4 separate regions of the Homo sapiens genome follow, and all the other regions are reported to be linked to region 3. The links are microRNA targets in miRTarBase. Many come from high-throughput screens and were not tested one by one. Region 3 holds a microRNA gene; each other region holds the end of a gene's coding sequence.
Evidence for each region. The annotated mature microRNA hsa-miR-5001-5p reads AGGGCUGGACUCAGCGGCGGAGCU and lies in region 3 at 3,209-3,232, shown strand. An mRNA with a match to its seed (bases 2 to 7 or 8) in the 3' UTR can be bound and repressed. Matches are read on the target gene's strand: a 7mer-m8 pairs with bases 2 to 8, a 7mer-A1 pairs with bases 2 to 7 and ends in A, and an 8mer does both.

Region 1: miRTarBase lists DMRT2 as a target of hsa-miR-5001-5p. The part of its 3' UTR that is shown has no 7-base or 8-base seed match.
Region 2: the mRNA of FGF19 is a reported target of hsa-miR-5001-5p. Seed matches in the 3' UTR shown: 7mer-m8 at 1,618-1,624, 8mer at 1,718-1,725 and 7mer-m8 at 1,726-1,732.
Region 4: the mRNA of NCKAP5L is a reported target of hsa-miR-5001-5p. Seed matches in the 3' UTR shown: 7mer-m8 at 1,131-1,137, 7mer-m8 at 1,637-1,643, 7mer-m8 at 1,644-1,650 and 7mer-m8 at 1,651-1,657.

Annotation. Positions count from the first base shown.
Region 1 is chr9:1,056,084-1,063,241 of GRCh38, forward strand. It overlaps DMRT2 (doublesex and mab-3 related transcription factor 2), which reads left to right. Exons shown (of 4, transcript NM_181872.6): 4 at 133-1,469. The coding sequence ends at 1,190. Among named protein-coding and RNA genes, the nearest start is that of DMRT2, 9.3 kb to the left of the region's middle.
Region 2 is chr11:69,693,128-69,700,285 of GRCh38, reverse strand. FGF19 (fibroblast growth factor 19) reads left to right here. Exons shown (of 3, transcript NM_005117.3): 3 at 710-2,048. The coding sequence ends at 1,024. Among named protein-coding and RNA genes, the nearest start is that of FGF19, 7.3 kb to the left of the region's middle. RefSeq lists a silencer at 711-1,005.
Region 3 is chr2:232,546,762-232,553,761 of GRCh38, reverse strand. It overlaps MIR5001 (microRNA 5001), which reads left to right and starts at 3,189; the gene lies at 3,189-3,288. It overlaps CHRNG (cholinergic receptor nicotinic gamma subunit), which reads right to left. Exons shown (of 12, transcript NM_005199.5): 12 at 5,647-7,000. TIGD1 (tigger transposable element derived 1) reads left to right here and starts at 3,205. Exons shown (of 1, transcript NM_145702.4): 1 at 3,205-7,000. The coding sequence starts at 3,880. The coding sequence ends at 5,655. It overlaps EIF4E2 (eukaryotic translation initiation factor 4E family member 2), which reads right to left and starts at 3,073. Exons shown (of 7, transcript NM_004846.4): 1 at 3,018-3,073. The coding sequence starts at 3,037. RefSeq lists a silencer at 2,693-3,062.
Region 4 is chr12:49,785,764-49,792,902 of GRCh38, reverse strand. It overlaps NCKAP5L (NCK associated protein 5 like), which reads left to right. Exons shown (of 13, transcript NM_001037806.4): 11 at 1-225; 12 at 315-457; 13 at 852-1,751. The coding sequence ends at 1,064. Among named protein-coding and RNA genes, the nearest start is that of NCKAP5L, 39 kb to the left of the region's middle. RefSeq lists an enhancer at 1,314-2,156.

The sequences.
Region 1 (7,158 bases), not on the chromosome of region 3:
TAAAAATATCAGTGAGATGGAACTGTAAATAATTGTTCTGCTGATCTGTAGTGTTGCTGTTACCTTCTGGGTTTCCACATTTTTATTCCGTAGATGTTAATCTCTTTCATGTGCAATCTTTGCTTCTTGTAGGCTATCGCCCCATTCCAGCGGAGACTTATGTAGGAGGGACCTTCCCTCTACCTCCCCCAGTTAGTGACAGGATGAGGAAAAGAAGAGCCTTTGCTGATAAAGAGTTGGAGAACATTATGCTGGAGAGAGAATATAAAGAAAGGGAGATGTTGGAAACTTCTCAAGCTGCTGCTCTGTTTCTGCCCAACCGCATGGTGCCTGGACCTGACTACAATTCCTACAAAAGTGCCTACAGCCCCAGCCCAGTGGAACCACCAAGCAAGGACTTCTGTAATTTTTTGCCCACCTGCCTTGATTTAACCATGCAGTATTCAGGGTCTGGGAATATGGAACTAATTTCTTCTAATGTCAGCGTGGCCACAACTTATAGACAGTATCCCTTGTCCTCAAGATTTTTAGTTTGGCCCAAGTGTGGCCCCATTAGCGACACCCTCCTCTACCAGCAATGCCTGCTAAATGCCACCACCTCAGTTCAAGCCCTGAAGCCTGGGGCCAGCTGGGACTTGAAGGGAGCACGAGTCCAGGATGGACTCAGTGCAGAGCAGGACATGATGCCATCGAAATTGGAAGGTTCCCTGGTGCTGCCTCACACTCCTGAGATCCAGACCACGAGAAGTGACCTTCAGGGTCATCAGGCTGTCCCAGAGAGGTCCGCGTTCTCCCCACCCCGACGGAATTTCTCTCCCATTGTTGACACGGACTCCCTGGCAGCTCAAGGGCATGTCTTAACGAAGATCAGCAAAGAAAACACCAGGCACCCTCTGCCACTTAGACATAATCCATTCCACTCATTATTCCAGCAAACACTTACTGACAAATCGGGTCCTGAGTTGAAAACACCATTTGTCAAAGAGGCCTTTGAAGAGACCCCTAAGAAACACAGAGAGTGTTTAGTTAAGGACAACCAGAAGTACACATTTACAATAGATAGATGTGCAAAAGACCTTTTTGTAGCCAAACAAGTTGGAACAAAACTCTCGGTGAATGAACCACTGTCATTTTCTGTTGAGTCTATTCTTAAGAGGCCTTCATCTGCCATCACTCGTGTCTCTCAGTGAAAGGCTGCTTAAACAGAAAGCTGGATTTTCTGCAGTCTTAGAGCATTATAGCCATTTGCTACTTTTTTTAAAAGTTAAGATGTTTGTGTAAAGAAATTTCTAATGTAAAGATGATGATTTTGAAAAATTTTATATATTCCTAATATGCATGTACTTTTTCTTATCACATATATTTAAACTTACAGATGGAAATTGCCCAATGTGCAAATTGTTAAGTACCACACTTTACACAGCATTTCAAAAAGCAATAAAATTGACACTGTCTTCTCAAAGACCCAATATTTGCCGAAGCAAATAGCTGTCTCTGTCTAGATGAAGAAGCTATTTTTCTATGATTCTGTATATTTGTATATTTTGAAGTACTCTTAATGGTCACTGGGGGCCACAGGAAAACCTTTATAATACTTTAGTTTTGCATTGTGGAGGGCACATAAATTTAATTATTCGAGACTGTTTGAGGCAAAAATCACTTTAAGGAGAACATAGGGCCATTTGCATGTTTACAGTATCTTCATTTCACGTGATTGGACAAAGCTGAATTAATTGGAAGGGAAATCAAGTGTAATGTCTCTTTTACATTACATTAGATGGTTTGGGTTCTTGGAATAGATTTCTTCTGACTCCCTGGGTCCCAGTTTCTTTCCCTGGCGAGGATGTTTATGTGGGGCCCTAAGCTTCCTTTCTAGAAACATTTCTAGTTTCTTTGAACAGTCTATGATTTTAGGTTGCTAGGAGCCACAAATCAGGTTTCCTTTTAAGATGTGGTCAGTACTGATGGGGCCCAAACCTCCTCTCAGCTCTTGTGTGAGTCCACTGTTTCTGAATCACTGGTGACAGCAGGCATTTGGATGCAGGCCCAGTCACAACTCTCATCCGGTCCCCAAGTATCAGCTTTATGCCTCCCACATTTGCACCACTGTCAAAGGCCTTCAGTGTAACTCTCTTCTGACACAAAAACGTTTAGTATTCAGATTGCTTCAGCTGACAGTTGCTGAAGCTTGCAGATGTTTATCACAGCATGAGGGTGGCTTCTTAATTCTTACACCTTTTCTCCCCCCACCCCCCCTTTTTTTTGAGACAAGGTCTCACTCTGTCGGCAAGGCTGGAGTGCAGTGGTGTGATCATGGCTCACTGTAGCCTCGACCTCCCCAGGCTCAAGTGCATGCCTGTAGTCCCAGCTACTCAAGGGGCTCCACCTCCCAGGCTCCACCTCAGCCTCTTGAGTAGCTTGGACTACAGGCATGCACCACCATGCTTGGCCAATTTCTAAATTTATTATTATTTTTGGAATATGTGCAGAGGTAAGTTTTTAAAAATTTTGGTAGAAACAGGGTCTCCCTATGCTTCCCAGGCTTGTCTTGAACACCTGGTCTCAAATGATCCTCGTGCCTTGGCCTCCCAAAGTGCTGGGATTACAAGCATGAGCCACCACACCCACCATTTCTCCCATTTTTAAGTTCTTGTTAATCTCTTGTTTTACTCAGTAAAATGTTAGCTGTTGTTCCATATAATTGATAAAATAAGAGTAAGACTTTTATGAGAGTACTAAGTTCATCTCTTAAGACCTCACCTGTGGACCCCAAGTGAAGTTTAAGGTGTCATAGTCATTCTAATACAAAAAATCAAGAGTCACGTATCTCACTTTTAATACCGCCACAGAGGGAGGTTTTACGTCAAATTCTGCTACTGTCTTCTGGGTAACAAGAACATGAGGTGGGTATGTGGAAGATGCCAAGTGATTCAGCAGTGTGAAAACACTTTGAATTACTTAGAAATGATTTTGCTACTAATGACCTCATGTAAACCTCCTGGGATTCTCTGAATTGTTGCTTAAAATTAGCATCAATTTCAAAAAACAACAAGCCAAACCTTGGGTTGACTTTCAGTTTGTACTTGTAAAATAATACTTGGTTTTATTGAGTCAAATTTAGTTATTTGTATTATTGCAAAAGTCAGAGTGAATGGACGTTTGCCAGAGGCAAAGGATTTGAAAACAGGCAGAGATTCCAATAACTTTTAAAGATTATCATTAAGCGGAAAAATGTTTTCCAGCCAAGTGTGCCCTGATGTCAGAGACAGAATCTAACTCCAGTTTTCCCTCCCAGTCGTCTCTGCTTTGTCTATAATCACTAATTTTTGTCTTTCTATTGGAAATTTACTTTTTTGTTTCAAGTGTTAAATGTATCCTTAGCATTTAATTAAACTGCTTCAAAGGTAATGAGGGGGAACGTATTAGAATAAAAGCACATAAAAAATCTCAGTGAGAGGTCTTCTCATCTAAACATGAATTTTATCTCTTGCTTGCTCCACTTTTGTGTTTTGAATACTTATATTTGTTAAGATGTTTCTCTTTTGTATTCAGTGAACACATGGGGACTTCTTTTCGGTCCTCTCTCTCTGTATCATTTTAATCCCATTATGTGAATCCAGTTGGCTGTGGGTATTAGTGGTTTTTCTCACATTACCAGTGACCAGAATTTTATTGTTCTTGAACATTTATGAGGGTCACTACTTCCCCTGGCAAACTTATTATTATACTATGAATTAGTTCTGCTGTAATGAGTTCTTTGAATTTTAAAACTACCAAAGGCCGGGCGCGGTGGCTCACGCCTGTAATCCCAGCACTTTGGGAGGCCGAGGCAAGCGGATCACGAGGTCAGGAGATCGAGACCATCCTGGCTAACAAGGTGAAACCCCGTCTCTACTAAAAATACAAATAATTAGCCGGGCGCGGTGGCGGGGGCCTGTAGTCTCAGCTACTCGGGAGGCTGAGGCAGGAGAATGGCGTGAACCCGGGAGGCGGAGCTTGCAGGGAGCCGAGATCGCGCCTCTGCACTCCAGCCTGGGCGAGAGAGCGAGACTCCGTCTCAAAAAAACAAACAAACAAACAAACAAAAAAAACTACCAAATCTACCGTCAGCCACTTGTTAAGAGCTTTGTGCTTGGCTCTTTGCTTTTGAAAATCATTTCACTTCCATGAACGTGTCATATAGAATCTTCAGAAAACACTGCCATTGACATTAAATCAAACTTGGGATTCGATTTAAGCATTTTCTCTATCGAAGGCAATAAATGGATACAGTTTTAATAGTTTTCGAGAATGTAAAGGATAGTAAAACGTGGACATTTTTCTCAATTTAACTCACAATACAATAATACAACTCTAATGACATGTTATCCTTCCATCTCAACCCATCAAGCATGATCGTTAGCTGAATTTGCAGTTCTCGAAAGTTTACAACAGTGCTTCTCAAACTAATGGACAATTGAACCACCTGAGAATCCCGATGCTGCTGGGCTTCAGGCCACACTTTGAGTAACAATGCTTGCAGCATTTCTGGTATTTCAACGCACATTTAATATTATCTGCTGTGGATTTTGAGTTGTAATGCAATCATCATAATATTACTAGCATGAGTAAGTTAATATACAGAAATAGTTTTAAAAAACCAAATTTTTTTTTTTTTTTTTACGGAGTATCGCTCTGTTGCCCAGGCTGGAGTGCAGTGACGTGACCTCAGCTCACTGCCACCTCCGCCTCCTGGGTTCAAGCGATTCTCCTGACTCAGCCTCCTGAGTAGCTGGGATTACAGGTGCCTGCCATCACGCCAGGCTAATTTTTGTATTTTTAGTAGAGACGGAGTTTCACCGTTTTGGCCAGGCTGCTCTCAAACTCGTGACCTCCAGTGATCCACCTGCCTCAGCCTTCCAAAGTGCTGGGCTTACTGTTGTGAGCCACCACGCCTGGCTGCCATTTTCCTTTTTACTGAGCCTAGGCCAAGACCCAGGCAAGTCATGCAGCAGACAGTGCCTGCTCCCCACCGTCTCTTTTTTTTTCTCACAAAGGTAGAAGTTGTTTTAATTTGGTTAAAAATATAATATGTATCTTTTATTTTTAACTGTGGGAAAACATAAAATTTGCCATCTTAACTATTTTGAAGCATACAGTTCAGTGACATTAAGTACATTCACATTGTGCAGTCATCACCACCGTCCATCCACATAACGCTTTTCATCATGCAAAACTGAAATTCTATACCCTCAGTAACTCCCTCCCCTCCCAGCAACCGCCTTTCTACTTTCCGCTTCTGTGAATTTGACTACTCTAAGTACCTCATAAAGGGCAATCATACAGTATTGTGTTTTTTCAGTACCTCATACAAGTAAAATCAGACATTATATGTCTTTTTGTGACTGGCTTATTTCACTTAGCATAATGTGCTCAAGGTTTATTATGTTCTAGCATGTGTCAGAATTTTCCTCCTGCTTAAGACTGAGTAGTGTTCCACTGTGTTTGCGTGTGTTTGTATGTATATGTGTGTATGTCTGTGTGTTTAAGCTGCTTCAAAGGTAATGAGGGAAAGCCATTAGAATAAAACCACATAAAAAAATCTCAGTGAGAAGGCTTCTTAATCTAAACATGAATTTTGTCTCTTACTTTCTCCATTTTTGTATTTTGAATGCTAATAGTTGTAAGATGTTTCTCTTTTGTATTCAATGAACGTATGGGAATTTCTTTTCTGTCCTTTCTCTCTGTATCATTTTAATCCCATTAAGGGAATCCAATTGGCTTATTTTACTTATATGAGGTATTTTCCTTATGTAAGGTACTTTTCCGACTCCAAACTAATCAATTAGGTAAGTTATATACACACACTGTATATATATGTTATACATATATATACACACACACTATATATATGTATATATATACACACAGACACACACATACATAAATACACACACAAACACAGTGGAATACTGTGCGTATGAGTGTAAACGGTGTACATGTAGACATATATACATACATACACATGTGTTTATATGTATATATACACACATACATACACATACAGTGCATACACACACATACATTTTTGTTTATCTGGTAATCTGTTGATAGACACTTGGGTTGAATCCAGCTTTCAGATATTTTAAATAATAGTGCCATGAACAAGGATGTCCAAATAGTTCTTTGAAACCCTGCTTTTAGCTCTTTTTGGTATGTATGCCCCTTCTCTTCACCCTGTTCTCACTTCCGAGTTTCACCTGCTTCCTGTCCTTAGGAACTGAGTTATCTCAGGTATACAGTCCTCCCAACTATCCCCTCTCCTGCAGTGTGTGGACCATTTCCACTCAACACTGTTGTTGCCCAGAAAGGCTCCAGTATCAGTTGTGTACCTTTTAGTATGAGCTTAAATGATATCTTCATTTAAAAGCTTAATTCCAATTGTGTAATGAAAGACTGTAACTTGTATTAACAAACTTTCTGGAATTCCTTCTGCAAAGCCTCAGAAGTGCTAAACTGAGAAAATGGCTGAAGGTCAAGATGAAGAAATAAGGAGAATCCACGCTTCCTTGTAGAATAATGGATAAGACTTAGTGTCGAGGCTGAGTTTTCAATAGGGACTAGAATTCTTAGTGGCTCACCTGATTTCATTAATTTTGGATTAATTTTAATATTCCTATTCTATGTCTATAAACTTAGGCTTGTTTCCATGGGTAGGGTCCAATTTGTAGGGCTGATAGTTCATGAAATGGTTGGACCTTGCATTATATAAACTTGGGCCTTTGGCATCCTCTTATATTTATTTTAATAATTATACAAAGCTTTTATCACATTCCACCCCCTTAGTTCTTTTAGTTTGTAACTTGTGATGTCTAAATACATCTAGGGCATGCTGGACAACTGCACACCTATAAATAGGTTGGCATTTGCTATAATGGTAAATGTGAAATAACAACATATGTTTAGAGCCTGGCAATTTACAGAGCACATTGACATTTATCATTTTTTATATTCCTCACATAAATTCTATAGAAATTTGGTAAATGGCCATATGAAGAGATGAATCTATATGTCTGTGGATATGTTTACAAATTTGGGAATTCTTTCCAATATACAACATGACTTGAAATTGCATAATACAGCCCTAAACCTTTGTATATAAATTTTAAGTGCATCTAA
Region 2 (7,158 bases), not on the chromosome of region 3:
GTTTTGTCTGTGTGCATGTATATCTATATAAAGATTATAATTTATAAAGGTATATAAATGTATATTTAATTTATTAATGGGTTATATATTAACATAATGTACATATTATATATGCTTACACTTACAGTACATTTATATATGTGTGTGTGTTCTCTGTGTATATATATAGTTGTGGGTTTTTTGTTTTGTTTTTTTTTGAGACAGGGTCTTGCTCTATCACCCAGACTAGAGTGCAGTGGCATGATCATTGCTCAGTGCAGCCTTGACTACCCAGCCTCAACCCATCCTCCCACCTCTCAGCCTCCCGAATAGCTGGGCCTACAGGCGCCCACCTCCATGACCTGCTAATGTTTGTACTTTTTGTCAAGATGGAATTTTACCATGTTGCCCAGGCTGGTCTCAAACTCCTGGATTCAGGTGATCCATCTGCTCTGGGCCTCCCAAAGTGCTGGGACTACAGGTGTGACCTACTGTGCCTGGCCTTAAAGTACATTATATATTATATATACTTACATATATAAAGGTATATTTTATATATACTTACACGTACAGTGTGTACATCAGGAAGTATGTATAAAACATGCAAGTGATGCTTATGTGGAAGGTCACTGCTGGTGGCCACCAGGGACAGTCTGTAGCACAAACGTCCATGTGGACCCGTGTTCCCTGTCCACTGTGGATTGCTCAGAGCTGCCTGTTTTCTCTGCAGCTTCAGTACTCGGAGGAAGACTGTGCTTTCGAGGAGGAGATCCGCCCAGATGGCTACAATGTGTACCGATCCGAGAAGCACCGCCTCCCGGTCTCCCTGAGCAGTGCCAAACAGCGGCAGCTGTACAAGAACAGAGGCTTTCTTCCACTCTCTCATTTCCTGCCCATGCTGCCCATGGTCCCAGAGGAGCCTGAGGACCTCAGGGGCCACTTGGAATCTGACATGTTCTCTTCGCCCCTGGAGACCGACAGCATGGACCCATTTGGGCTTGTCACCGGACTGGAGGCCGTGAGGAGTCCCAGCTTTGAGAAGTAACTGAGACCATGCCCGGGCCTCTTCACTGCTGCCAGGGGCTGTGGTACCTGCAGCGTGGGGGACGTGCTTCTACAAGAACAGTCCTGAGTCCACGTTCTGTTTAGCTTTAGGAAGAAACATCTAGAAGTTGTACATATTCAGAGTTTTCCATTGGCAGTGCCAGTTTCTAGCCAATAGACTTGTCTGATCATAACATTGTAAGCCTGTAGCTTGCCCAGCTGCTGCCTGGGCCCCCATTCTGCTCCCTCGAGGTTGCTGGACAAGCTGCTGCACTGTCTCAGTTCTGCTTGAATACCTCCATCGATGGGGAACTCACTTCCTTTGGAAAAATTCTTATGTCAAGCTGAAATTCTCTAATTTTTTCTCATCACTTCCCCAGGAGCAGCCAGAAGACAGGCAGTAGTTTTAATTTCAGGAACAGGTGATCCACTCTGTAAAACAGCAGGTAAATTTCACTCAACCCCATGTGGGAATTGATCTATATCTCTACTTCCAGGGACCATTTGCCCTTCCCAAATCCCTCCAGGCCAGAACTGACTGGAGCAGGCATGGCCCACCAGGCTTCAGGAGTAGGGGAAGCCTGGAGCCCCACTCCAGCCCTGGGACAACTTGAGAATTCCCCCTGAGGCCAGTTCTGTCATGGATGCTGTCCTGAGAATAACTTGCTGTCCCGGTGTCACCTGCTTCCATCTCCCAGCCCACCAGCCCTCTGCCCACCTCACATGCCTCCCCATGGATTGGGGCCTCCCAGGCCCCCCACCTTATGTCAACCTGCACTTCTTGTTCAAAAATCAGGAAAAGAAAAGATTTGAAGACCCCAAGTCTTGTCAATAACTTGCTGTGTGGAAGCAGCGGGGGAAGACCTAGAACCCTTTCCCCAGCACTTGGTTTTCCAACATGATATTTATGAGTAATTTATTTTGATATGTACATCTCTTATTTTCTTACATTATTTATGCCCCCAAATTATATTTATGTATGTAAGTGAGGTTTGTTTTGTATATTAAAATGGAGTTTGTTTGTATCAAAAGGTGCATTCTATTATCCGCCTAGAATGTTAGGGAGGGTGGGGAAGGGGCTGGTGGGGGGCAGCACCGTCCACGGGAGGAAACCCTCGGTGTGTCTGCCCTGGACACCAAAAGCTCGGGTGGGAAGTTAGCGGGTTTGGGCCAGCCAGCTCTAGTGGTGGAGGCTGGTTTGGGCCCTGCTGTCCTGCCCTTTCCTCATGCCTAGGGGCTTGGCTTCCTCAGTCCACCTTCTCTCTAGCAGTCTCAGTGGTTAGGGCGGCCTCTCTGCCAGGAGTGTTTTTGGCTGCAGGAAACAAACACCAAGGAACAGCGGCCTAAGTGAGGGCCTCTCGCCCTCAGCACTCTTCCCTGGGGAAAGACGTTCCTGCATTTAACAGTGCCCCCCCCACCCCCCACCATTAGATGCCTGTAGAAACCCTCAAGTTGTGACAACCAAAATACCTCCAGAAGTTGTTGCATGTTCTTAGGAGGCAAGATCACCCTTAACGGAGGACCACTGACCGGAGCAAATAGGATTTCTTTTTGTCCAGCCACAAATCCAGAGGGACCCAGTGACCCAGCGATGCCTGGGCTGTGCCCTGTGTGATTCCCTTGGTGTCCCTGTCCTGCTGGGGCCTCGTCTCGCCAGGGCTGCTGTGGCTTCAGCTGAGCGCCCTGTACTCAGGGAGAGGGAATCATTTCGGGCTGGGCCTCTCTCATCAAGAAAGCCAAAACTTCCTTAGAACCTTTCAGCAAATTCCGGCTACATCCTAAGAACCAGGTTTGCGTCACAGGACCAGGCCAGCCCCAGCTGCACGGCAGGCTGGGAAGGCAAGAATTAGCGGTCAGGGTGACCAGATGTGGGCCACATCCTGAGTGCAAGGAGGAGCAGGTGCAACCGGACACCAACGTGTGCATGAAACATGATTCCAAATGAGCATTTGCCAGGGATTAGGGATGGTGGAGGGAGTCGGGGAGGAGGGTTGGGTCACTCAGGGCAGTAGTTCCCAGGTGCTTACGTTGGCAGCGAGGGGGGTAATGTCGTTGTTCAAGTCTACGAAGGCTATTTCAGGTGAAGCCTCCCTGCTCTCCAGTAAAAGGGACCTCCACTTGTCATTCTCACTGATGACATGCCCAGGACATCTAGAGTTAACCCTTGGGGCGTTCCCTGTCTCCATCTGCCAATCAAGATGCCCCTCTCACTCTTTGGTGTCCTTGTCATGTAACCATGCTGATTAGAGAGCTGACAGGCAGGGCTGGATGATGCTTGTGGACACAGCCTTCTCTACCCGTGGCAGGCGCCAGACAGGAAAGGCACTCTCCTGGAGCCACACAGCCTGGAGGCAGCTCAGGGGCTGTGGGCAGGGCCCTTTGATTGCTGTGTGACCTTGAGTAAGTCACATCACCCCTCTGAGCCTGCATCCTTCTGCGGACATGAGGTTAACAGGGTCTGCATGGTAGGGCTATACAGAAATCCAGTGAAATGATGTCTGCGGGATTCCTGGCACAGAGCCGGCTGCCTATCCACAGCAAACCTCACCAAGGATAGAACCATGTGTCCTGAGCTATTATGTCCACTGGATCTCAAATTTGGCTGCACATTGAAAAAAAGATGATAGCTGGAAACCACTCATGGAGATTCTGAGTTTTTTGTCTTTCTTTCTTTCTTTCTTTCTTTCTTTCTTTCTTTCTTTCTTTCTTTCTTTCTTTCTTTCTTTCTTTTTCTTTTTTTTTAGACAGTCTCACTCTGTCATCCAGGCTGGAGTACAGTGCACAATCACTGATCACTGCAGTCTTGACCTCCTGGGCTCAAGGGATCCTGCTGCCTCAGCCTCTCAAGTAGCTGGGACCACAGACCCATGCCCAGCTCATTTTTTTTTTTTTAATTTGTAGCAATGGGGTCTTGCTATGTTGCACAGGCTGGTCTCGATCTCTTGGGCTCCAGAGGTCCTCCTGCCTTAACCTCCCAAAGTGCTGAGATTATAGGTATGAGCCACCGTGCCCAGCTGAGATTGTGATTTAATGGGAATGGGTGTGGTCTGGACACTGGGATTTTTTAAAAGCTCCCCTGTGGGCCGGGTGCGGTGGCTCACACCTATAATCCCAGCACTTTGGGAGGCCGAGGTGGGTGAATCATGAGGTCAGGAGATTGAGAACATCCTGGCTAACACAGTGAAACCCCATCTCTACTAAAAATACAAAAAATTAGCCAGGCATGGTGGCAGGCGCCTGTGGTCCCAGCTACTTGGGAGGCTGAGGCAGGAGAATGGCATGAACCCGGGAGGCAGAGCTTGCAGTGAGCCGAGATTGCACCACTGCCCTCCAGCCGGGGCGGCAGAGCAAGACTCCTTCTCAAAAAAAAAAAAAAATCTCCCCTGTGGTTCTAGTGTGCAGGGAACCAGTTCAAATTCCATCCTTTGTGCTCTGAAGACCAGCACTTCAGGGAGAAAATGAAGAAAGAGGCTTATCAGCACCTCCCTCTCTGGAGTCTTCTCCCTTCTGCACAGCTGAGGATAACAAGTGAATGTACGTAAACTAATTCACACTAGACTGTTGATGGTTAATATGTTTGCTCTCCAGGCCACATTTTTACTGACCTGGCAGCTGCAAAACCCTGATGACAGACCGTGGGTGATGCGGGCATTCTGGCAGGAGATGGGGAAGATTATTTTTCTGAGGCTGCATCTTAGCATCCACCCTACCCCGACTCTTCCCCTACTCCTCATAAAGAGGTAGCCTTGCCCTCTTCCTGCATCCCCTCTCCCTGCTTTAGATAGCGTTGCCAAATACATAAAAATACAGCATCTGAGCTACATTTGAATTTCAGGTGAGCAATGCATTTCTTCAGTAGGAATGTGTCCCATGCAATATTTGGAACATATGTATACTAAAAAGTTATTCATTGCTGATTTCAAATTCAAATCAAATCGGGTGTCCTGTGTTTTGTCTGGCAAGCCGAGCTTTAGGCCCACACCACGGACATGGAGTTAAAAATGAGAGAAGACTGGAGCAAAAAACTGTTTCCGTTGAACAAGACTCTCTGCTGGTGAGACTCCAAAATGGAATTCAAAAGATCCCAGGGACAGGGAGGCCTTGAGTGAATCCCACTCTTTCTTCGGGCCTGTTTCTCCATCTGTAAAGCGAGAACCTTTTCGTCGCCTCAAGGCCTGTTGACTCCTGGGGATTCTGGCAAAGTGCCCAGGGGCTGGGAAAGGCCTCTTAACCAAGGAGGGGGCTGGAACCCGCCACCCCGGCATTAGGACTCTTGTGGTCGCAGGTGACAGAAAACACAACTCAAACTGACTTGAGGTAGGAAAAACAAGGGAACTTATTGGCTCACCTTTACTGAGAAGGCCAGGAGGTGCCGGGCTTTAGGCATGCGGGACCTGGGAACCGGCACCACACCAGGCATCATCTGTCTGTCTGTCCATTTTCAAGCATCTTTTCCCTTTGTAGTGACAAGATGGCCCCAGCAGCCTCAGCCGAGATGATGGACAATTCTCTTCTCTTACCAACAACTCCAGCAAGAGCCCCAGACTGGGTCTCAGGGATCCTTCCTGTGTCCCTTGTTCGTCCCAACTGGGCACAGGAGGCTCTGACCAGCTGGGCTGTGTCCCCTTCTGTAGCCCGGGGAAAAATCAGCCCTCGTGGGATGCTAGGACTAAGAAGGGGAGAGACATTTCCCCAGAGGAAAACCCACGGCACAGGTATTCCCCCAGGTTCCTACAGTTCACTATCCACTGGGCGACCTTCCCTCTTTGGATTGGGAAATGACAGCCAAAAATGTTCTACAAGACCAAAGAGGAGAGGGAGTGGGTGGGGCAGGGCCACCCAGATGCAGAAATTGTCCATTCAGTTATGGAGGACATGAGACAGCATCCTGCCTGCCTTAGTCTCATACTCCCTCCCCCACTGTCAAGGTGACCAAAAAGGAACCTCAATTAGGGGAGCGAGGAGAGAAGGTGTACCTTTTGCCACTAGAGGCAAAGAAAGAGAGACAGACAGACAGACACTGAGTTTTACAATACAGCCATGCGCCCCATAATGATGTTTCAGTTAACGGTGGACCACATATACAATGGTGGTCCCATAACATTAAAACTCCATATTTTTACTATGCCTTTTCTATGTTTTTAGATATGTTTAGATACACAAATACTTACCATTGTGCAACCTTTGCCTGCAGTGTTCAGAGCAGTACCGTGCTGTGCAGGTGTATAGCCTAGGAGCAATCAGCTGTACCACATAGCCCAGGTGTGCAGCAGGCGACACCATCTAGGGTTGTGCGAGCACACTCTATAATGTTCGCACAATGGTGAAATCACCCAGCGATGCATTTCTGAGGACGTACCCCATTGTTAGCATTGCATGGTTGTGTACATACATGACTGCCTGCATAAGGCACCACGGTCTGAGGCTATCAACAGCTCAACATTTTGAGTGAAATGCAAGAGCGTTACCTTTACTTAGGTCTCTTTCTCTCTCCACTTTTAAATTATCATTAAGTCTTTCCTCTGCCTATATTGGGCACCACATCAGATGCCATGATTTTTGGTGTCAGGCATCAAAGATGATTGTTAAAATGCGTAAGAAGGACAATCTTGTATTTTTACCCCTATTTTTAATCAGTCCGATATTCTTCTTTCCTTTCTGAACTTCAAAGCCTATTTAGAGAACTTCCTTTGAACATTTTCTTTTCTTTTCTTTTCTTTTTTTTTTTTTTTTTTTTAAGATGGAGTCTCACTGTGTCACCCAGGCTGGAGTGCAGTGGCACAATCTCAGCTCACTACAGTCTCTGCATTCCTGGGCTCAAGAGATCCTCCCACCTTATCCTCCAGAGTAGCTGGGGCCACAGGCACATACTACCATGCCTGGCTAATTTTGTTCAGAGATGAGGTTTCCCTATGTTTCCCAAGCTGGTCTTGAACTCCTGGAATCAAGCGATCCTTCCACCTTGACCTCCTAAACTACTGGGATTGCAGGCATGAGCCACTGCACCCAACCCTTCAGGCTGGAGTGCGATGGCGTGATCTCAGTTCACTGCAACCTCCGCTCCCTGGGTTCAAGCGATTCTCCTGCCTCAGCCTCCTGAGTAGCTGGGATTACAAGTGCCTGCCACTGAGCTTG
Region 3 (7,000 bases):
CCCTAATGGACCTATATCTGGTGCTTTTATTACCTGAGAGTGGAACTAACCAACCACTCTGCCCTCTAAGCCTACATTTAAGGCAAATCTTACAAGCTACTCTTCCCAGCTTCAAGCTGGATTTGAGTCAAGATACAACTCAGACTGAAAAATCAGTGCTCCCTAAACTCAGGCAGTTAGCAACTCTGAGACTGTCCAGACTGAGAGGCACTTTAGTTAGCTTGCTAAGCTTCTGCCCACGTATTTCCTCACCCTCTGAACTAGACCAATACCTTGTGGGCAGGACCTTGGTTCAATTCATCTTTATACCCTCACCATCAGACAGTGGCATAAAAAAAAATCTCCGTTTAATGAATGGGTCTATAGAATCAAAGCAATGAGTGCCAAATAAGTGGTTTAGACAATAGTTAGGAATGGGCCCAAAGTTAACGATATAGAATAAAAAGCAAATGATGTAGAATACGGACAAAATCAAGTACAGTTGTGTAGATCTGAAAACTATGTTTAAGTCAGGACTGCAGTTTTTGTGAAAGCATCTTACGGTTTTACGTTATCAATAGGATCAATGGCAATGAGATCTAAGGACTTGATAGGTCTACCCCTTCTCCACAAAAGCAATTACAATCAAAGGTTTCATTCAGAGAAGTTGAGTCCATACAGTAACGGAGATTAGAGCTAATCTTTAATATGAGCCCATTAGATTATATACTACTGTACTCAGCTCCAGCCACTGGACATCTGGAAGGATTCTGGCAAACTGGAACATGTCCTTAAGAGCAATGTGGTAAAAAGTGCAGATTACTAGAGAGAGCAATGTGGTAAAGACTCCAAATATGCAGCAATGGCCTAAACACCGCAGAATTTCTGAATGAAAAACAACATAAAAAAATAAAACTAGGGGCAGGAGTGCTGTTTTCAACTGCTAATTTCAAATGAAAGAAAGCTTGTTTTTCTTTTTTTTTCCTGCAATGCTAGAGGGCAGATGTTAAAAGATTCTGGCTCAATACAATAGTTAATAATTCAAAGTAATTAAAATGACCCAGGTTCTTCAATCGTAGAAGAGGTAAGAAAAAAAAAGAGGGCAAGTTTAATTTTTCTCAAGAGGTGCTTGAACCAAGGTTACACAACAAACCTGGGATAGCCCTTCCTTTGTGTCGGGAATTAGTTAACCTCAGAGTCTCACTTTCCTCATCTGTAAAAGGAGACAACAAGATCCCCTTCACAGAATTGTTAGAGTAGAAATAACATATGAGGCTGGGGGTGGTGGCTCATGCCTGTAATCCCAGCACTTTAGGAGGCAAGGTGGGTGGATCTCTTGAGCCCGAGTTCGAGATCGGCCTGGGCAACATGGCGAAACCCCGTCTCTACAAAAAATACAAAAAAATTAGCAAGGTAGGGTGGCACATGCCTGTAGTCCGGCTACTCTGGAGGCTGAGATGGGAGGATTGCTGGTGCCCGGGAGGTTGAGTGGGCAGTGAGCTGTGATGACACCACTGCACTCCAGCCAGGGTGACACAGCGAGACCCTGTCTCAAAAAATATATATATATATGAAAAATACCTAGCAAGATCCCTGTGGAAGTCCATTATTACCATTCTTACTGCAGACTCCCAAATGATTTGGGTAGGCTTGAGCTAGATGACCCATAAGATGTCTTCTTAGGATGACATTTGATTTGTTCAAATCAGTGGAGGAAGGGGTATAAGGGTTCCAGAAAGCTCCACTGAGGCAGGATTTGGATCTGGAGCTAGTTGTTGCAGGGTTTACAATAGAGATGAAATGGGGCGGCAGCGGGGGAGAGGTTCGTAGAGGGACAGGCTCAGTTAAACAGCAGGATAGAGAAGAGGTCGGGCAAAGACTTTCTCAAGTAGCAGAGACCTCTCAGCAACCAGAAAACATTCCTGAGGACCTACCTGCCTGGAGTGTTGGAAATCCAGTATTCCCTGAATTTGCACAGTACTCTCTGTATTGGAAACACCCCAATTTCCCATCAAAAGCACCAGGTCACAACCTAAACTAATAGTAATTCCACTTTACGTTTATATCGCAATAGTTAGCAATGTTCACAAGCATCTTTAAGCATCGCTGAGTGTGATCTGACCCTTATCACACCCCGGCGTGGCAGCAGGGTCCTAGCCACTAATGTGGTTTGAGCAACAATGGCTTAGAGGCTGGGTAACTTTTCTACAGTCAAACAGATGGTAAGTGGTGAATCTGGGACTAGAAATCCAGGTTTTCGGATGAAGAGACAGTCGATTTACTAGACTACTAGAAGAGAGGAAGGAACATATTCTACCTCAAGATACAATCCTTGGAGGGGGATAAGTAAAGATACTTCTGCATTTTCTCTCTGTACCTCCAAACTGTTTGATGCTGAAACTAGAAACCGGAGCGGGCAGGAGAGGGCAACAAGTATACTTAGGTCTTGGCGAGTGTGTTGGAAGACGGGAACGGGAAGGGGAGGAGAAAGAAAGTAGGAAGAGTCTCAGGAAGATAATTCCTAAGCCAGCCTTCCACCGCGTCGAGGGCAGCAACCACATTACCTCATTGCATCCTCCAAACTCTACGACAAAGGGTGTTACCGTCCCCACTCTGCAGATGAGAAAACTGAGGCTCAGAGGGGAGAGGGAGTGTGTGGGGAAAGCTGGATTCAGAGGCAGCGCTGCCAGACTGCGGAAACACCCAAACCGCCGAGGTCCCCACCCCTCCACGTCGCAGGCAATCCGCATCCACCAGGGCGGGGCGTCCGAAAATCTCCCCCTACCGGGCGGCACAGCCACCCCTCCCCCGGGCCCAGCTCTTCGCCCTCGGTTCGGACGGCCCTGGGGTCTCCGGGACTCCGGTATCCATTGCTCCCCAGCCCCCTCCTCCCCGCCAGTCCAGGCCAGGTCCGGCCGCAGCCGGATCCCAGCAGGGAAGCCGGTGCCGCAGGGTTTGCGCCGCCCCAGCCCCAGCGGGGGCGGGCGCGGGGGAACTGTTCGGGGAAGGGGCCCCGGGGGCGGCCACGAGCCACTCACGCGTCGAACTTGTTGTTCATCCTCTCGCCGCCGCTGTCGCCACTGCCTCAGGGAGTGACTTCCGCTCCACCGGGTCCCTCAGCCTTGGGCCCGGGTACTTCCGGTTTTGCGCGGGGCGCAGCGGAACGTCGGCGCGCAGGCCCGGTTTGGAAGCGGCTATCTCGGGACGCCAGCTCAGGGCGGCTGCGCAGAGGGCTGGACTCAGCGGCGGAGCTGGCTGCTGGCCTCAGTTCTGCCTCTGTCCAGGTCCTTGTGACCCGCCCGCTCTCCTAAGGGAGCGTGTCCTGGCCCCCTCCCGCAGCGGCTCGGAAAAAAGGCAGCACCGCGTCGTTGACGGCGCGGGCTCTGGACTCGCTGCTTGGTAAAAACCTTCCTCTTCCTCCAGTGCGGGACGCACTCTCTGGTATCTCTTTTGACCTCCCGGAGGCTTTCCTTTGTCGGTCGCGGCGCCACTGTACTATGGCATACCTCGTTTTATTACGCTTCGCAGATAGGGCATTCTGAAAACAAATGGAGGGTTTGTGGCAGCCCTGAGTCCAGCAATTGTATCAGCGCCATTTTTCCAACAGCATGTGCTCACTTGGTGTCTCTGTGTTACATTTTGGTAATTCTCAAAATATTTAAAACTTTTTCATGATTTCTGTGTCTGTTATGGTGATCTATGATCAGTGATCTTTGATGTTGCTATTGTCATTGTTTTGGGGTGCCACATACAGCGTCTTTTATAAGACGTGGAACTTAATGTTGTGTGTGTTCTGACCGCTCCACCCACAGACCGTTCCCCATCTCTCTCCCTCTTCTTGGGCCTCCCTATTCCCTGAGACACAACAATATTGAGATTAGGCGAATTAATGACTCTGCAATGGCCTCTAAGTGCTCAAGTGAAAGGAAGAGTCGCACATCTCTCACTTTAAATCAAAAACTAGAAATGATTAAACTGAGTGAGGAAGGTATGTCAAAAGCCGAGATAGGCCGAAGGCTAGGCCTCCTGCGGCAAACAGTTAGCCAAGTTGTAAATGCAAAGGAAAAGTTCTTGAAGGAAGTTAAAAGTGCTACTCCAATGAACACACGAATGATAAGAAAGCGAAACAGCCTTATTGCTGATATGGAGAAGGTTTTAGTGGTCTGGATAGAAGATCAGACCAGCCGCAACATTCCCTTAAGCCAAAGCCTAATCCAGAACAAAGCCCTAACTCTCTTCAACTCTATGAAAGCTGAGAGAGGTGTGGAAGCTGCAGAAGAAAAGTTTGAAGCTAGCAGAGGTTGGTTCATGAGGTTTAAGGAAAGAAGCCATTTCCATAACATAAAAGCACAAGGTGAAGCAGCAAGTGCTGATGTAGAAGCTGCAGCAAGTTATCCAGAAGCTTTAGCTAAGATCATTGACGAAGGTGGCTACACTAAACAACAGATTTTCAATGTAGATGAAACAGCCTTCTATTGGAAGAAGATGCCATCTAGAACTTTCATAGCTAGAGAGGAGAAGTCAGTGCCTGGCTTCAAAGCTTCAAAGGACAGGCTGACTCTCTTGTTAGGGGCTAATGCAGCTGGTGACTTTAAGTTGAAGCCAATGCTTATTTACCATTCTGAAAATCCTAGGGCCCTTAAGAATTATACTAAATCTACTCTACCCGTGCTATATAAATGGAACAGCAAAGCCCGGATGACAGCACATCTGTTTACAGCGTGGTTTACTGAATATTTTAAACCCACTGTTGAGACCTACTGCTCAGAAAAGAAGATTCCTTTCAAAATATTACTGCTCATTGACAATGCCCCTAGTCATCCAAGAGCTCTGATGGAGATATACGAGGAGATTAATGTTATTTTCATGCCTGCTAACACAACATCCATTCTGCAGCCCATGGATCAAGGGGTAATTTCGACCTTCAAGTCTTATTATTTGAGAAATACATTTCATAAGGCTCTAGCTGCCATGGATAGTGATGTCTCTGATGGATCTGGGCAAAGCAAATTGAAAACCTTCTGGAAAGGATTCACCATTTTAGATGCCATTAAAAACATTCGTGATTCATGGGAGGAGGTCAAATTGTCAACATTAACAGGAGTTTGGAAGAAGTTGATTCCCACCCTCATTGATGACTATGAGGGGTTCAAGACTTCAGTGGAGGAAGTAAGTGCAGATGTGGTGGAAATAGCAAAAGAACTAGAATTAGAAGTAGAGCCTGAAGATGTAACTGAATTGCTGCAATCTCATGATAAAACTTTAACAGATGAGGAGTTGTTTCTTATGGATGCGCAAAGAAAGTGGTTTCTTGAGATGGAATCTACACCTGGTGAAGATGCTGTGAACATTGTTGAAATGACAACAAAGGATTTAGAATATTACATAAACTTAGTTGATAAAGCAGCAGCAGGGTTTGAGAGGATTGACTCCAATTTTGAAAGAAGCTCTACTGTGGGCAAAATGCTATCAAACAGCATCGCATGCTACAGAGAAATCTTTCATGAAAGGAAGAGTCAACTCATGCGAAAAGCTTCACCGATGTCTTATTTTAGGAAATTGCCACAGCCACCCCAACCTTCAGCAGCCACCACCCTGACCAGTCAGCAACCATCAACCTCGAGGCAAGACCCTCCACCAGCAAAAAGAGTACGACTCACCGAAGGCTCAGATTGATAATCAGCATTTTTTAGCAATAAAGTATTTTTAAATTTAGGTATGTATATTGTTTTATTAGACAATGCTATTGCACTCTTGCTGGTCTACAGTATAGTGTAAACATAACTTTTATATGCATTGGGAAACCAAAAACATTCATGTGACTTGCTTTCTTGTGTTGGTCTGGAACTGAACCTGCAATGTCTTTGAGGTATGCCTCGACCTACCTCCTTAGGTTGCTGTATGGATCCCATGAGACAGTAACTTATAGTAATGGCAGCTAATGTTAACATTTGAGTGTTTATTGTGTACAAGGAGCTAATCCTCTGCCCTCTGAGGCTTTCAGAGAGGTTGAGAGACTTGTGCCAGATACACAACTAGTAAGGGGCTGGTGGGAACCGGAAATGGCCCCACTGTCATCAGATTCCCTCCCTGATTGAAGTTCTCCCCCACTCTCCCTAACTCCTCTAGTTCTCTATAGCTCTGACTCTGCTCTTGCTTCAAACACACTGTGCATGCACAGACACAGACTCACACTGGAGTAAATAATACGAACTTGCTGGTGATTGAATCCCAAAGACAGCAATCCTGTGCTTGGAGGGAGGGCATATTTCCAAGGTCCCCTCCTGCCAGCATATCCTGTCGTCAGGCCTTTATGTGGCACTTTCACTTTTCTTTTTTCAGTTTTGTAATTTTTTTATTTTTTTTGAGACAGGGTCTTACTGTGTCATCAGGCTGGAGTGCAGTCACATGATCACAGCTCACTGCAGCCTAGACCTCCTGGGCTCAAGCGATCCTCCCACCTCAGCCTCCCGAGTAACTGGGACTACAGGCATGCATCACCACGCCCAGCTAAGTTTTGTATTTTTTGGTAGAGGCCGGGTGTCCCCATGTTGCCCAGGCTGGGTTCCTGGGTTCGTGGGCTCCTGAGCTCAAGCAGTCCACCCACCTTGTCCTCCCAAGGTGCTGGGATTGCAGGTGTGAGCCACCACACCTGGCCAGGAATGGATTATTTTTTGCACCTTATTTACAGATGAGGGAACAGCCTCAGGGAGCATAGGTGACTTGCCCAAGGGTGTCCCCTGGTTACCAGCCAAACTCGTGTGCCGGCTGTAATCTCAGAGCAGGACCTTGCCTCTCCCCCAGGAAGACCCCAGCCTTACTACCTGATTAGTGGGGTCAAGGGAGGCCAGTCAAAGTCTCCTCCTGGAATGAAGAGCTCAGTGGCTCTCTGTTAACTCCACACCTCCTCTTGCCTAGCTCTTCCTTGTCTTAACCATCCTTTGGGAAGAAGGGCCTGTTTTTCAGGCCGTAGAATCTTAGAGTGTCAGATTGGGTCAGAGTCAGGAATTCTGGACTTCAA
Region 4 (7,139 bases), not on the chromosome of region 3:
AGAATCTTCCTAAGACCAAGCCACCGCGGCTGGATCCCCCACCTGGGGTACCCCCAGCTCGGCCCCCACCCCTTACCAAAGTCCCCCGCCGCGCCCACACACTGGAGCGGGAGGTGCCAGGCATAGAGGAGCTGCTGGTGAGTGGGCGGCACCCCAGCATGCCAGCCTTCCCTGCACTGCTACCCGCTGCTCCGGGCCACCGGGGCCATGAGACCTGTCCTGATGGTGAGTGTCCAGGTGGGAGGGTGGGATGCCCCTGGGCATCCTGGAGCTGCCCAGGCAGCTCCATCCACCTTCCCTTTGTTCCTGGACAGATCCCTGTGAAGACCCAGGCCCCACCCCTCCTGTCCAGCTGGCCAAGAACTGGACCTTCCCCAATACTAGGGCAGCCGGCAGCTCCTCGGACCCTCTCATGTGCCCACCCCGACAACTGGAGGGGCTGCCCAGGACCCCCATGGTGAGAATTGCAGCAGAGGAAAGGGAAAGGACTCGGGAGCAGGAGGGAGTGATGTGGGGAGACCAGTTTCTCCAGTAAGGTACGGCCTGTGTGTCGCACAGTCTCAGTGCTGCACCCTCTGGGAGGAGGACCCCTGGGATGCCCTGTGAGCGGCCCTCCCCACTGCCCTCCTTGCACTTCTCTCGTGGGGAAAGGTTTCTGTCCCTCCCCAGAACCTTGTAGGACTGTTCTCAGTTGTACCTCCAGCCTGTTTCCTCTGAAGTATACCCCACCTTGGGCCCCCTCTGGAGCAGCCCCCCATCAGGTGCACAGACGCCCCTCAGAGCTCAGTGCCTCTGAGGCTGGGCCGAAAGGTGGAGAGGAGCTTCCTCCCGAGCTGCCCCTCCTTTCCCAGGCCCTGCCCGTGGACCGGAAGCGAAGCCAGGAGCCCAGCCGCCCGTCCCCTACGCCCCAGGGCCCACCTTTCGGGGGTAGCCGCACCCCCAGCACTTCGGACATGGCCGAGGAAGGCAGAGTGGCCAGCGGGGGCCCCCCAGGGCTGGAGACCTCGGAGTCTCTCAGTGACTCACTCTACGACTCGCTGTCCTCTTGTGGGAGTCAGGGCTGAGGGGCTGCGCCACGCCACGGCCCCGCTGGAGCTGGGGACCACAGACTGGACCGGCTCTCTTCATGCCCAGCCCCCGGAGACGGGGACCCCTCCCTGAAGGGACCAAGGAGGCAGGTGGATAAGAAGGTGAAAAGGGGGTCCCTGGCACACCCCACCACCCACTGCTTCGGCGGATGAGATGACCGTGCTCAGCTCAGGGAGAGACCCCGCCCTTGGTCCCTTCTCTCACCCAGAGTAAGGCTCTTCCTGGAAGGGACTGGGGGTTAAAGGCCACTGTGTCGCAGCCCTCCAGTCCCTACTTCAGGCTGAGCCATCTTGTGGTGCTGGGCTTCCTGCCCACCAGCCGTGCCATCTCTGCCCAACCCGGCTGCTCCTCTGCCCCGAAGCCCTCGCGAGGCCCTCCTGGAGGCCCCCGTGCTGGTGGAGTTTGGGGGCCAGGGGGACAAGTTGCCTTCTCTCTCTGCCCTGGTCCTCCCTGCTGTCTGGATGGTGCTGCCCTCCTCTGCCCCATGCCTTTGGGGTCTGTTCGTCCGTCTTTTTTGTTGTTGTTTTTATATATTGAAGCGCCTGGCCCAGCCCCCAGCCCCCAGCCCCGCACTGCGGTTAATTTATGTGTTGTTTAAAATGCGGCTGCTCTGCTTCCTGCCTCTGCTTCTGCCGTATCCCTAATAAAATGTGGAGGCCCCCTCCCTGCCCCTGAGTCGGCTTGTTGTGTGGGAGGACTCAGGCAGGCCAGGTCGGGGGACACTGCATGGGTGCCAGGTTGAGGGACCCCAGGCCCCCTTGTGACACAGCCCCCTCACCAGGGCAACTGGCTGGAGTCATCCCAGAAGGTAACTGAGGGTTGGGAGAGTAGGGCCTGCTTAGGCCCGGAAGGGTATCTGGGCTCGGAGAGATTCTCCTGGGCCAGGGCTTGGGCACGGCGCGAGGCTGGGTGGCCCCTTGGAGAGGGAGCTGGGGAAGATGGCTGTGGACATGCACTCAGGCCCCACGTGTCCCAGGCTGGGGGGGACATGCAGACTCTGAGTAGAGTTGCATCTCTTCTCCAGACCTTGGTTTTCCTCCTCTATAGAAGATTAGAAAGTTAATCCAGACGAGCTGGTCCCATCAGCCAGACTTTCTTCTCAGCATTCTCCTCTTCCTACCCCTTCCCCAATTCTCTTCCTACCCCTTCTTAGTTAATATCATCATTGAAGAAATTAACAAGACGGAGAGTGTCAAGTCAGATGTCTGGGTTTTTTTTTTTTTTTTTAAGTCAGTATCCCATTTTCTTACCTCTTGTCTTCTACTTCCAGATTCCTATCCCACTGTCCTATCTTTTCTGCTTTTATGGGCTTAAGCATAATATTACCAAGCTGTAAATCTGCTTCTTGCCAGGTGGGCTTCAAGAGGTCTACCTCCTTCCCACTTTTTATTTCTTGGTTTTTCAAGCCCTCTTCTCTGCTTGAACTTGGTAGATTACCTCATTTCCTAGTTAGAACAGAATTGTTTGCCTGCAGGATATTTCTCCTATTTCCTTCTGGGGAAGGAGTTTGGCATAGTAGGTTTGATGCAGGACTCCACCTCTTTCAAGCTGAGACCAGAGGGTCCATCCGCATTCTTACCACCAGGGTCTGATCCATCTGCCTAGGCTTTATTCTCTGGTGTTTGCAAATACAAGGCGTCACCTTGGTTTCCAGGGCAATGTGGGCTGACTGACCAAGGCAGGGCAGGTGGCATCAGTCACACCTGACGCCTGGAGGCAGCCATTGCCTACCAACTGTTCCATGGTGGGAAACTTCCTAAATCCCCCAGCATTCTGCTAAGAGACCCTGGATCCAGATGAGCCACCCCACAGCCTACATAATTGTGTGCCCTTCACACAGACCCAGTATTTTATCTAAAATGATTCTGTGGAGGAGGACATGCAGTTGAGTTTAAAGACACTCCTGGGGAATCAATTTCTTGCACTTCAAAGAAAGGTTAGGCTAAAAGACCATTTGATCCTTACTAAGGCAGAACACTTCATATCTCAGTTTGCAACATCTTCCTGCAGAATTCAGGTAAATTCACTGTTTTCTCCAAGAATAATAGGTGAATGTTTGCCTTTGCAATGTGCAAGACCCATTCTGCTGGATTTTCCAAACAAAGGAAGACAAAACTGCCAGGCCACCTCCCCCATCCCCCAAAATGGCATCAAGGCATCAGCAAAAGATTATGACAAGGCTTCAGGTTCAACTTCACTGGGCACTTTGCCTTTTGCAGGAAATGTCCCAAAAACATTAACTCAAGTTTTCTCTGGGTAGCCAGTGGGTTTTTTTTTCCTTCTTTACCCTTTTGTAGATTTCTACAAATAGTGTGCTTTGTTTTCTTTAAAAAAAAAATTTTTTTTTGTAGAGATGGGGTCTCACTATGTTGCCCAGGCTGGTCTCAAACTCCTGGCCTCTCCAAGTTCTGGGATTACAGGTGTGAGCCACTGCATCCAACCTGTTTTGTTTTCTTTATCAAAAAAAGTTTTAAGGCCGGGTGCAGTGGCTCACGCCTGTAATCCCAGCACTTTGGGAGGCTGAGGTGGGTGGATCACGAGGTCAGGAGATCTATACCATCCTGGTTAACACAGTGAAACCCTGTCTCTACTAAAAATACAAAAAACTAGCCAGGCGTGGTGGCACGCGCCTGTAGTCCCAGTTACTCCAGAGGCTGAGGCAGAAGAATTGCTTGAACCCAGGAGGCGGGCCTTGCAGTGAGCCAAGATCGCGCCACTGCACTCCAGCCTGGGCGACAGAGTGAGACTCCGTCTCAAAAAAAAAAAAGTTAAAAAAAATTTTTTCCCGAGACTATAGAAATGCTCACCTGTATTAACTTCAAATTCATGTGGCCTTAAGTAATTTATTTATATGCTTGAACTAACTCACACAGGATTACAGAATGAGGGTATATATCTAGAGTTTGCTGCAGAGAATAATTGTTTCTCGTTTAAAACTTTTTTTTTTATTTTTTTGAGACGGAGTCTCTCTCTGTCACCCAGGCAGGACTACAGGCTCCTGCCACCACACCCGGCTAATTTTTTGTATTTTTAGCAGAGGTGGAGTTTCACCATCTTAGCCAGAATGGTCTCAATCTCCTGACCTCGTGATCTGCCCACCTCGGCCTCCCAAAGTGCTGGGATTACAGGTGTGAACCACCGTGTCTGGCCCCTTAAAAGGTTTTTAATTGTTAAAGGAATAGAAATTATAGAAGTATATGTTCCCCAGGCACAATGGCTCATGCATGTAATCCCAGCACTTTAGGAGGCCGAGGCGGGTGGATCACCTGAGGTCAGGAGTTCGAAACCAGCCTGACCAACATGGAGAAACCCCATCTCTACTAAAAAATACAAAATTAGCCAGGCGTGATGGCACATGCCTGGAATCCCAGCTATTCGGGAGGCTGAAGCAGGAGAATCACTTGAACTTGGGAGGCGGAGGTTGCAGTGAGCCAAGATTGCACCATTGCCCTCCAGACTGGGCAACAAAAGCAAAACTCTGTCTCAAAAAAAAAAAAAAGAGTATATGTTCATGGTTTTTAAAAAAAGGAATTGAAATTGAATGTTATAACTAATTATCAGGGAAATGCAAATCAAAACTGCAATGAAATACCACCTCACTCTAGTTAGAATAGCTCTTATCAAAAAGACAAAAGAAAACAAGTGTTGGTGAGGATGTAGAGAAAATAGAACCCTTACACACTGTTGGTGGGAATGTAAATTAGTACCTCTATTAAGGAAAACTGTGGAGGTTCCTCAAAAAATTAAAAGTAGAGCACTATATGATCCAGCAATCCCACCAGTGGGTAAATGGAGGTATCTGTACTCCCTTGTTTATTGCAGCACTGTTCACAATAGCCAAGAATTGAAGTCAACCTAAATGCCAGCAATGGATGAATGGATAAAATGTGGTATATCTACACAGTGGAATACTATTCAGCAATGAAAAAGAATGATATCCTGTCATTTGAAACAAATTATTTGAACCTGAACATTATGTTAAGTGAAATAAGTCAGACACAAAAAGACAAATACCACATGTTCTCACTGATACGTGGAATCTTAAAAAAAAGAAAAAGAAAAAGCCGATCTTATGGAAGTATAGAGCAGATCAGTGGTTACCAGAGGTTGCAGAGCCAGTGGAGGAGAGGAGGTTGAGGAGAGGTTGTTTGGAGGTACAAAACTAGATAGGAGGAATAAGTTCTGGTGTTCTATTGCACAGTAGAGTGACAATGGTTAACAAGAAAGTATGGTATATTATTAACAAAATAGAAGAGAGGGTTTTGAATGTTCTCACCACAAAAAAATTACAAATTCATAATGAGATGGCTGTCCTAAATACCCTGATTTGATCACTATACAATGTATCCATGTATGCAAAAACATCACATTGTACCCCATAAGTACATACAATTATAAAGTGTCAGAAATTGAAAAGAGGCCGGTGAGGTGGCTCACGCCTGTAATCCTAGCACTTTGGGAGGCTGAGGCAGGTGGATCACGAGGTCAGGAGATCGAGACCATCCTGGCTAATATGGTGAAACCCCGTCTCTACTAAAAATACAAAAAGTTAGCTGGGCGTGGTGGTGGGCACCTGTAATCCGAGCTACTTGGGAGGCTGAGGCAGGAGAATGGTGTGAACTCGGGAGGCAGAGCTGACAGTGAGCCAAGACCACGCCACTGCACTGCAGCCTGGGTGACAGAGCAAGACTCTGTCTCAAAAAAAAAAAAAAAAAAAAATTGAAAAGAGGCTGGGCACTGTGGCTCACATCTGTAATCCCAGCACTTTGGGAGGCCCAGGCAGGTGTGTCACGAGGTCAGGAGATCAAGACCATCCTGGCCAACACAGTGAAATCCCTTCTCTACTAAAAATACAAAAATTAGCCGGGTGTGCTTACGTACGCCTGTAGTCCCAGCTACTTGGGAGGCTGAGGCAGGAGAATCACTTGAACCCGGAAGGCGGAGGTTACGGTGAGCCGAGATCATGCCACTGCACTCCAGCCTGGCAACAGAGCGAGACTCCATCTCAAAAAAAAAAAAAAAGAAAAGGAAAAGAAATGGAATGTTATACAAGGAAAAAAAGGGGCTGGGCATGATGGCTCACACCTGTAATCCCAGCACTTTGGGGAGCCAAGGGAGGAAGATCACTTGCACCCAGGAGTTTGAGACCAGCCTGAGCTACATAGTGAGACCATGTCTCTACAAAAAAATAGAAAATTAGGCCAGGGCTGTGGCTCATACCTGTAATCCCAAGCACTTTGAGAGGCCAAGGCGGGCAGATGACTTAAGGTCAGGAGTTTGAGATCAGCCTGGCCAACATGGTGAAACCCCATCTCTACTACAAATACAAAAATTAGCTGGGCGTGGTGGCGCATGCCTATAATCCCAGCTACTTGGGAGAGAATCGCTTGAACCCAGGAGGCGGAGATTGCAGTGAGCTGAGATCACACCACTGCACTCCAGCCTGGGCAACAGAGCAAGACTCTGTTTAAAAAAAAAAATCAAAAATTACCCAGGCATGTTGGTACACACCTGTAGTCCCAACTACTTGAGAGGCTGAGGTGGGAGGATGGCTTAAGCCCGAGTGATTGGAGCCTGCAGTGAGCAATGATCATGTCACTGCAGTCAGCCTGGGTGACAGAGTGAGACCCTGTCTCAAAAAATAAGTAAAAAATTAGCTGGGCATGGTAGTATGAGCCTGTAGACCTACATACTTGGGAAGCTGAGGTGGGATGATTGCATGAACCCAGGAATTTGAGGCTGTAGTGAGCTATTAGCATCCGACTACATTTCAGCCTGGGCAACAAAGCAAGACCTTGTCTCTAAAAATTAAAAATAATTTAATAAAAAACAGAAAAAAGGAAAATCCCCTTCATACTGCGCCCTCAGTTTCATTCCACAAGCAACCTGAGTTAATTGGTTATCCTTTCGGATGTTTTTATTTATTTTTATTTATTGATTGATTTTTGAGACAGTCTCGCTGTGTCACTTAGGCTGGAGTGCAGTGGCGGGATCTCGGCTCAGTGCAACCTCTGCCTCTCAGGTTCAAGTGATTCTCATGCCTCAGCCTC